Linked DNA regions of Homo sapiens. The protein of the gene in region 1 interacts with the protein of each later gene in a pairwise test. Each region holds a gene or a part of one and is shown on either strand. Other genes may lie near its edges. The genes, in order: FCRL4 and ZNF76.

What was found.
Region 2: the proteins of FCRL4 (region 1) and ZNF76 interact in binary tests that used the Homo sapiens proteins (3 or more experiments, as listed by UniProt).

The regions. Positions count from the first base shown.
Region 1 is NC_000001.11:157,595,049-157,599,535, forward strand, and holds the start of FCRL4 (Fc receptor-like protein 4 precursor), read right to left. Parts: upstream 3,038-4,487; 5' UTR 2,897-3,037; coding exon 2,866-2,896; intron 1,301-2,865; coding exon 1,280-1,300; intron 1-1,279. UniProt on the Homo sapiens protein: May function as an inhibitor of the B-cell receptor signaling. May function in the B-cell-mediated immune response.
Region 2 is NC_000006.12:35,283,735-35,287,234, reverse strand, and holds part of ZNF76 (zinc finger protein 76), read right to left. Parts: intron 1,110-3,500; exon of another isoform or gene 1,108-1,109; coding exon 1,027-1,107; intron 914-1,026; coding exon 836-913; intron 805-835; exon of another isoform or gene 261-804; coding exon of another isoform or gene 245-260; intron 1-244. UniProt on the Homo sapiens protein: May be involved in transcriptional regulation.

The DNA.
Region 1 (4,487 bases):
CCACCACAACCGGCTAATTTTTTGTATTTTCAGTAGAGATGAGGTTTCACCATGTTGTCCAGGCTGGTCTTGAGCTCCTGACGTCAAGTGATCCACCCACCTCAGCCTCCCGAAGTGCTGGGATTACAGGCATGAGCCACTGTGCCCAGCCTCTGCAGACACTTTTTAAAAAGAAAATTCTGTCTTTAAAGGTTTGGACAGAATACTCTATGTCATCAGTGGGAATGGGGCTGTGTTTCTGCTGAAGAGAATAGAAAACCCTACCAGCTATATTCCTGGGAAGCACCTGGATGCAGGGCCATTGGGACTTAGGCAATAGGTCTTCTACTGGAGGGAAGGAGAGTTGATTTCCTTTGATGTATGCAACTAGACTCTTCTTTGCTCTGAGGAAGCTGCCCCTGCTATGTGCAGGTGGCCCTATGGCCAGGAAGGGACATAACTTTTCATGGCCTTCGTGTGTTTGAGACTGAGTTGATGGGCTCTGAGGTTAACCACATCCCTAGCTGCAGTTAATTCAAGGCACTTTTTGTATTTCATTTCCCCATTCTAGAACCATTAGCAAAGTCTGCCAAGTTATAATCTTGTCTCAGGAAGGGTGTGTGGGAAATAGTCTGTGTCCAAGGCACCGAGGAGGGGAAGAACAGCAGAGTTAGGAGCTGCAAGAGACAGTGCACCTCAAGGGGGCCAAGGCCCTTGCTGGCTCCAGCAGCTCCTAGGGTGCTCTATAGGAATGGCCAAAACACCTGTGAGGCAGCTGCCTATAGAGGATGGGACTTTTTGCTGACCAGTAGGATAGATGGAGACTCAGAGTCATCATAATTTGAGCTATTAACAGAGAAGTGTGTCTCCATGGGATGCAGAAGTTGGGGATAAATTTGTTACACATGGTTAGTGGAAAAGCTGCTGGAGCCCCAGCCTCCCCCTCTGAAGTATTGGCTTATTTCTACCCTTTTCCTCTTGGGATGCTATGCATTCCATCAGGCTTGGCTAGAATCCCACATCAGGCGGGGTGACAGCTCCTCTTCCTGTGGACGCTGTGACACATATCCCAGGCCCTGCCATGTTTAGCCAGCACAATGGCAGTTTTGGTTTAAGAGAGTCACCCCCAAATAGCCTGGTTCTTAGGGTCAGAGTCACCACACGAGCTGATGTCTCTACATCCCTGCAGCACTCAGGAAAAGGATGAAATGGACAACAGGGACTCTTGTAAGTATTTGAGATAAAATATAGTTATTAGGGTATCTAGAGACATAAAGGAGCAAAGAAAATAAGGACTTACCAGATTGTCCACAGACTGGAGCTGAAAGAGAGTAAAGAGCCAGCCATCAGCGTAGGCGAAGAGTCCCGAACTATTCACCCTGAGAGCCCATACACTCATATGCTACTTCCAACCAAGAGGAAGAGAAACACGTTCCATTCCATCCATCCCAGGGAAGCGGGGAAACACAGTGGCCAGACGCTCAGGCTGTGGACTCAGACAGTCTGGTTTGAATTTTAGCTGTATGACCCAGGGCAAACCACATGAACTTTCAAGTCTCAGTTTTCTCATTTGAAAAATGAGGCTCATGAAAGCGACCTCATAGTAATACTGTAATGAGTTAGATCAGTAAGGTTTCAATTAATGGCTGCTGTCATTAATTTTTTAGTATGGGGCTGCTGCTGATTCCTCTTCTCTTGACTCAGAACACTTATTATCATAGCTAATTTGGAACTCAAAATGAGACAGACAGTAGAGGGTAGTAGTTAAAAGCCTAGTTTCCAAAGTTAGATTATGGGTTCGAATCCTGACTCTGCCACTGTACTAGCTGCATAAACCTCAGGGACAAGACCAACATCTTTGTGCCTTCATTTCCTCATTTGTAAATGGGAGTTATAAAAGTTCCACCTGATCAAATGTTAGAGAATTGGATACATTTATACATGGGGTGCCCTTAGAAAAGTGGGATGTAGCCAGGGCTTAGCACAAATTAACTGACATCCTCACACATTATCCTGTAACTATTTGTGTAATATTTTTCTCATATTGTCGAGTCAGATGTTCTTGCATGTGTACGTTGAGGTTCTATTGAGAATGTCACCTCTTGAGGGCAGAATCTGTGTCCTTCAGGTCTCTGCATCCTCTGTGGTGCCCAGCAGTGTGGCATGCCAAGTATACCCATCCACTCACTCCTTAGTTCCTATCATGTGCCAATCACACTAATAGGTCTTCCCTTAGTTGGGGTCTGGGGATCAGGTGGGAACTAGACAAATACGCTTAATAAATATTTAATGAACAAAAGACTGACTGTTCTTTAATTCCCTAGTTTGAGCAACTAGGAAATCCGTGCCTCATTTGGACAAACACTGACAAGTGGTACAAAAGCAGGAAGAAAAAAATCAAAGGGAAATCATCTTATCTCTTCTCTTCTCATGCTCTTTGCAAACATCAGAACAGGTTTGAACTTAGAATACAGAGAAGGAAATAACTATTCTCAGCAGGTGATCCTTTCTACCTGAGTTCACAATCAGGACTTTATCCTTCACAAATAACTCAGTCCATCTTTTCCTCTGGGTCCTCATGCTCTGTGACGTAGGGACTGAACCTAGCCATAGGTTTCTTTTTGCATAAACAAAATAAGTCCATTTGGGGGTAAAATGATTTTCCATAGGCAATTCATAGCAAAAATAGATGAGAAATACATCTTTGGAAATCAATTATTATCATTTTCCCCTTCTACCAGTAAATCATTATCTTTCCTTTTTGTTCATTTTCTGCTGTTCTAAAATGGGAGTAAAAATCCATGATTGCAGCAGCAGAAAAGAGGGCTTTTGCTCATGGTGAGGCTCAGCTTTGCAGCAAGCAAAGGTCTCCTCCCCATCACTTACCAAAGGCCAGCAAGGACGCCCACAGCAGCATGGAAGCCTGCTCCAGGATTGGAGAAGGAGTTCTGAGGAGACAAGCCAGGTCAGCCCAGATTGCCAAAGCAGCACTTGCCTACACCAGCACCAGCAGTGAGCTCAGTAAGCTTCTTCTCTGCATAAAGCTGATTGAGATAATGAAGTGAAAGGGGGAAGTAGAGGAATCTTTCTGAAAACACCAAACAGCAATGTGGACCAGTGTGAGAGAATCCAGACCACAAAAATCAAAATTTAATAGAATTAAGTACTGCTGTGACATCCTGGGGTGAATCACTTCTCAAGGCTAAAGCTACTCTAGTTTCAGAACTCTCTAGGCTCTGTCTTTCAAGGAAATCACAACCTATTCTCTCTGCTACTAGAGATGAGGTGAGATTGCAGGCCTATTGAAATCCACATAATCTAAGGATGTCCCTGAATATCCCCAGAGATGAAGAATTTCTCATTCAACACAGAAAAGGCCTCCTCTGACCGCTGATACCTCTACTGGAACACCTCCAGCAGGCCGTCTGTAGACCTGATGAAACATCTCAATCACAAGACAACTCTCACCTTGTCTGATATATATGAAAATATCCTGACTCATCAGTCCAGGGGGAAACCACAACTTTTGATCTGAGTAGAAGGCAAGCTGAGGAGTAAATTATAGCCCCATCATGCTCTTCCTAGATAATAGGCCATAACATTTTTACTTAATGTCCTAGAATCCAAAATTTGCTACAGGAATGTCTTGGCAAATATATATTGATTGAAATACATATGCCTGGTATCTGGTGGCAGAGAGAAGAAGTTGTGATTTCCTTGAAAGACAAGAGGCTAGAGAGTTCTGAAAATATGATGGCTTTAGCCTTGAGAAGCGATTCACGTCAGGAAGTCAGAGTGGGTATTTAAATAATTCTATTAAATTTTGATTTTTGCCATTTGGATTCTTTCACACTGGGCAACATGCTGTTTGGTGTTTTGAGAAACACCTAATGCTCTCCCTACCCATAACAAACCTGCACACTCTGCTCATGTATCCCAGAACTTAAAAAAAAAATTAAGAAAAAAATGGAAAAATCCGTAGTGACGTTTTTTGGTACGTATAATATTTTGGTATGTATAACTCTTTAAAACTTTTTTATGCTATTATCTTGTGTATATGTATGTGTATATATATATATATATATATATATATATATATATATATATATAAAATGTTAATGGCAAAAAAAAAGAAACACCATGGTGCTTCAGGTATGGTGCCAGGTGCTGGAAGTACAGTGTTAATCAAGACTTGGAAAGCTTTCATTCTGGTGGAGAAGACAGCAAGTCAACAGGAAATTACATAGAAGTGAATTGTATGTAATTTCTGAGAGTCCACTAAGAGGGAAATCTGACCCAGTTCTGGGGATGCATAAGAGGCTTCCCTGAGGAAGTAACATCCAAGCTGAAAGAATATCATTCTAGGACTGAGAGATGAGCATGCACTAAGATGGAAGGCAGTTATCGTGACCATCACCATCACATCAAGATATCTGTGAATAGATAATAGACATAGGATGGATTAAGAGTGGTCTGTATTTTTCTAATATAATGTTTTTCTATATATC
Region 2 (3,500 bases), on another chromosome or scaffold:
GATAAAGACCAAAATCCTCACCCTGACACTCAAACCCAGAGTGCACCAGCCCTGTCTTTCTCTCTCCAGTTTCCTCCTGCTCATTCTGCCTTCACTCCCAGGGCTCTAGCTCCTAGCAGTTCCTGGAATGTGCTGTTCTTTCTTCCCCCCAGCTCTAGGCCTGCACATGCTATTCCTTCTGCCTGAAGTACTGAACCCTCCCTGCCATCCCTCTTCCCCCAGCTAAGTCTACCTCATTCTTTACCTCTCAGCTCAAGCATCACTACCTCAGAGAAGCCCTCCCTGAGCCTGATCTCTGTTTGTAATGATCAGTTCATCACTGATGGCTTGTTTCACTTCTGTTTCCCCCTCTAGACTCTAGGAGAGCGGGGACTGTGTCTGACTTTGTTCTGTCTTGTATACTGCACACCTAACACAACGCCAGGCATGCAACAGTCACTCAAGAAACCACCTGCGGAAGGAATAAATTGTTATTCTTCAGCACCTTAGGAGCTTCATTCTAAAATATTAGTTTTTTTTCCTGGTCTTGGATGATATCCTCGGGTCCTATTTAAAGCCCTAAGACTTTGTGGCTGTGCTGGAGCCAAGGCCACCATCAAAGTCCACGTCACTGATCTCCAAGGCTCACCTCCCAGTTGCAGACATAGCTGCTCCTGTGGTCTGCACCAGGGAAGGTGGGCAAGGCTGCTAATCCAGGTGAGCATGTGTGTACCATGGAGATGACAGCTCCCATGTCTACACCCCAGTTGTGTGCCATCCCATCCTCCAGTCCTGCCACCCCATCCTCCAGTCCTGCCTCCCATCCTTCCCCGAGTTGTGATGATGGTGACCCTACCTCTGGGTGTGCGGTGTATGTAAGCCATGCTGCCATCTTCCAGCTGCACAGGCTGACCATCCTCAAAGGAGAGAGCTTCTGTAACGAGAGCAATGCCTGCCTTTCCCTGGAGCTCAGTGCCATGGAGGGGTCCCTTGGTGGGGGCTGTCAGGCTTCCCTCGACAAGGCATGGTGTGTTGGGGTGCCCTCACCTTTCTGTACCGTCACCTGGTGAATGTATGCGGTGGTCCCATCCTCGAGCTGGATCACCTGCCCTTCAAGAAGCTTCTCTCCTGTTAAGAGTGGAAATAGAGAGAAATGGGCCAGGACCAGAAGAGGGCTAAGAAACGCCTGCCTGTTTTTAGCTGAGGCTTATTTGAGTCTCTAGGCACGAGCCTGCAGGTCTAAGCATGGGTAACATCTTCCTTGTTCCCTTGCTCTGTCTCCCTGGGCCTGGGCCTTGAGACACTAAGGGTGAAGACACTTGCCTTGCCGAACCCATCACCTCCCAACAGATTCCCTTCCAGTTACTAACAGGAGGAATAACTTCACTTATTATTCTACCCATGCCCAGCCAAGTGGAAACTTCCAACCTAATAGTAAGTTGCTGAGACTTGAACTAATGGCCCTTAAACCTGGATGAGCCCCAGTGGGTCAAAATTCAGATATAGCTCAAACTAACAAAATCAAAACATATCCCCTCATCCCTCACTATGACAGTGTGCTAAGACCAGGAGCCCCTGTGAAGGCAGGATATATAGCTTAATGGTTAAAAACAATAGACTCTGGAACCAGGCCAGGCCTCCAGAGTTTGAATTCCAGCTCTACCTCTTAACAGCTGTGTGACCTTGGACAGCTTATTTAACTAACCTCTCTGTGCCTCAGTTTCCTTTTCTTAAAATGGGGATTGAAAACTGTGTCTCTTATAGGGTTGCTGTTAGGGTTAAATGAGTTAACGAATATAAAAAACTGGGAAGAGTGCCAGGTATATATGGTCAGCCCTCAATAAATCCTAGCTTTTATTATAAGCCCAATATGCATTTTAGAAGAAATGGAAAGTAAAGCAATAGAGAACTATGTGAGCACAACTATTATGCTATTATGTGTCCATGAAGGTCTTATTCCACTGCCACTGTTGAGTAATGTTCCTTCATTGACCTCTCATTTTTCATTTCAATTTTCTAGTAAAAAATTAGATCACCTAAGGCAACACAACAAGCAGCATAAAAATTAACAAGCCTCCAGATTTCCTAAGATATTACTCTTCCTTTACCTTACTGGAAAGCACTTCTAATAAGGCTCTTGAAATTAGAACTAGACGACCCTTCCTTGTGTCCAGTGAGTCTGACAGAGGGGGAAGGAAGAAGAGAAATGAGAAAGGAAAGAAAGGGAGATTGAAGAGTTAATGATGGTCAGATTCGGTGGCTCATGCCTATAATCCCAACACTTTGGGAGGCCAAGGCGGGTGGATCGCTTGAGCTCAGGAGTTTGAGACCAGCCTGAGCTATGTGACAAAACCCTGTCTCTACAAAAAACACAAAAATTAACTGGATGTAGTAGTGCATGCCTGTGGTCCCAGTTACTCGGGAGGCTGAGGTGGGAGGATTGCTTGAGCCCAGGAGGCAGAAGTTGCAGTAAGCCGTGATTATGCCACTGCAGTCCAGCCTGGGTGACAGAGTAAGACCCTGTCTGAAAAAAATAAAAAATAAATAAATAAAAAGGCTGGGCACGGTGGCTTACATCTGTAATCCCAGCACTTTGGGAGGCCAAGGCGAGCAGATCACCTGAGGTCAGGAGTTTGAGACCAGCCTAACCAACATGGTGAAACCCTGTCTCTACTAAAAATACAAAAAAATTAGCTGGGTGTGGAGGCAGGTACCTGTCGTCCCAGCTACTCGGAAGGCTGAGGCAGGAGAATCACTTGAACCCGGGAGGCGGAGGTTGCAGTGAGCTGAGATTGTACCACTGCACTCTAGCCTGGGTGACAGAGTGAGGTCCTGTCTCAAAAAGAAAAAACAAAAAAGTAAGGCTGGGTGTGGTGGCTCACACTTATAATCCCAGCACTTTGGGAGGCTGAGGCAGGCGGATAACCTGAGGTCGGGAGTTCGAGACCAGTCTAGCCAACATCATGAAACCGTGTCTCTACTAAAAATACAAAAAAATTAACCAGGCGTGATGGCACATGCCTATAGTCCCAGCTACTCGGGAGGCTGAGGCAGGAGAATCGCTTGAACCCGGGAGGCGAAGGTTGCAGTGAGCCGAGATCACGCCACTGCACTCCAGCCTGGGCTACAGGGTGAGACTCCGTCTCAAAAAAAAAAAGGAAGAAAAAATAAAAAAAAAGTTAATGACAAGTGATTTGTCCTTTCCTTAGAAGATTGAGGTTTAGGAAACTGAGCGCTCAGGTGGGAAAGACAGTTACTTCCAGCCCAAGTCTCTGCTGACGTCTCCCCTTTAGAGGAATCCCCAAACTTGCTCCCAAACTGAGTCTTCTTGGGGTCAGTAACTAACAGTCCTACAACTAACCAAAGGCAGGTAAGGTGGAGATAAAGGTAAGAAATAGGAAAGGCAGCTGAGATGGGGGGAAGATGAACCCATTTTCTTCCCTCCCACCCACAGAGCAGTAGGCTACCCTCATTTTAACAATTTATCTGTCCTGGCAAGGGCATCAGTACTTGGGGTTCTG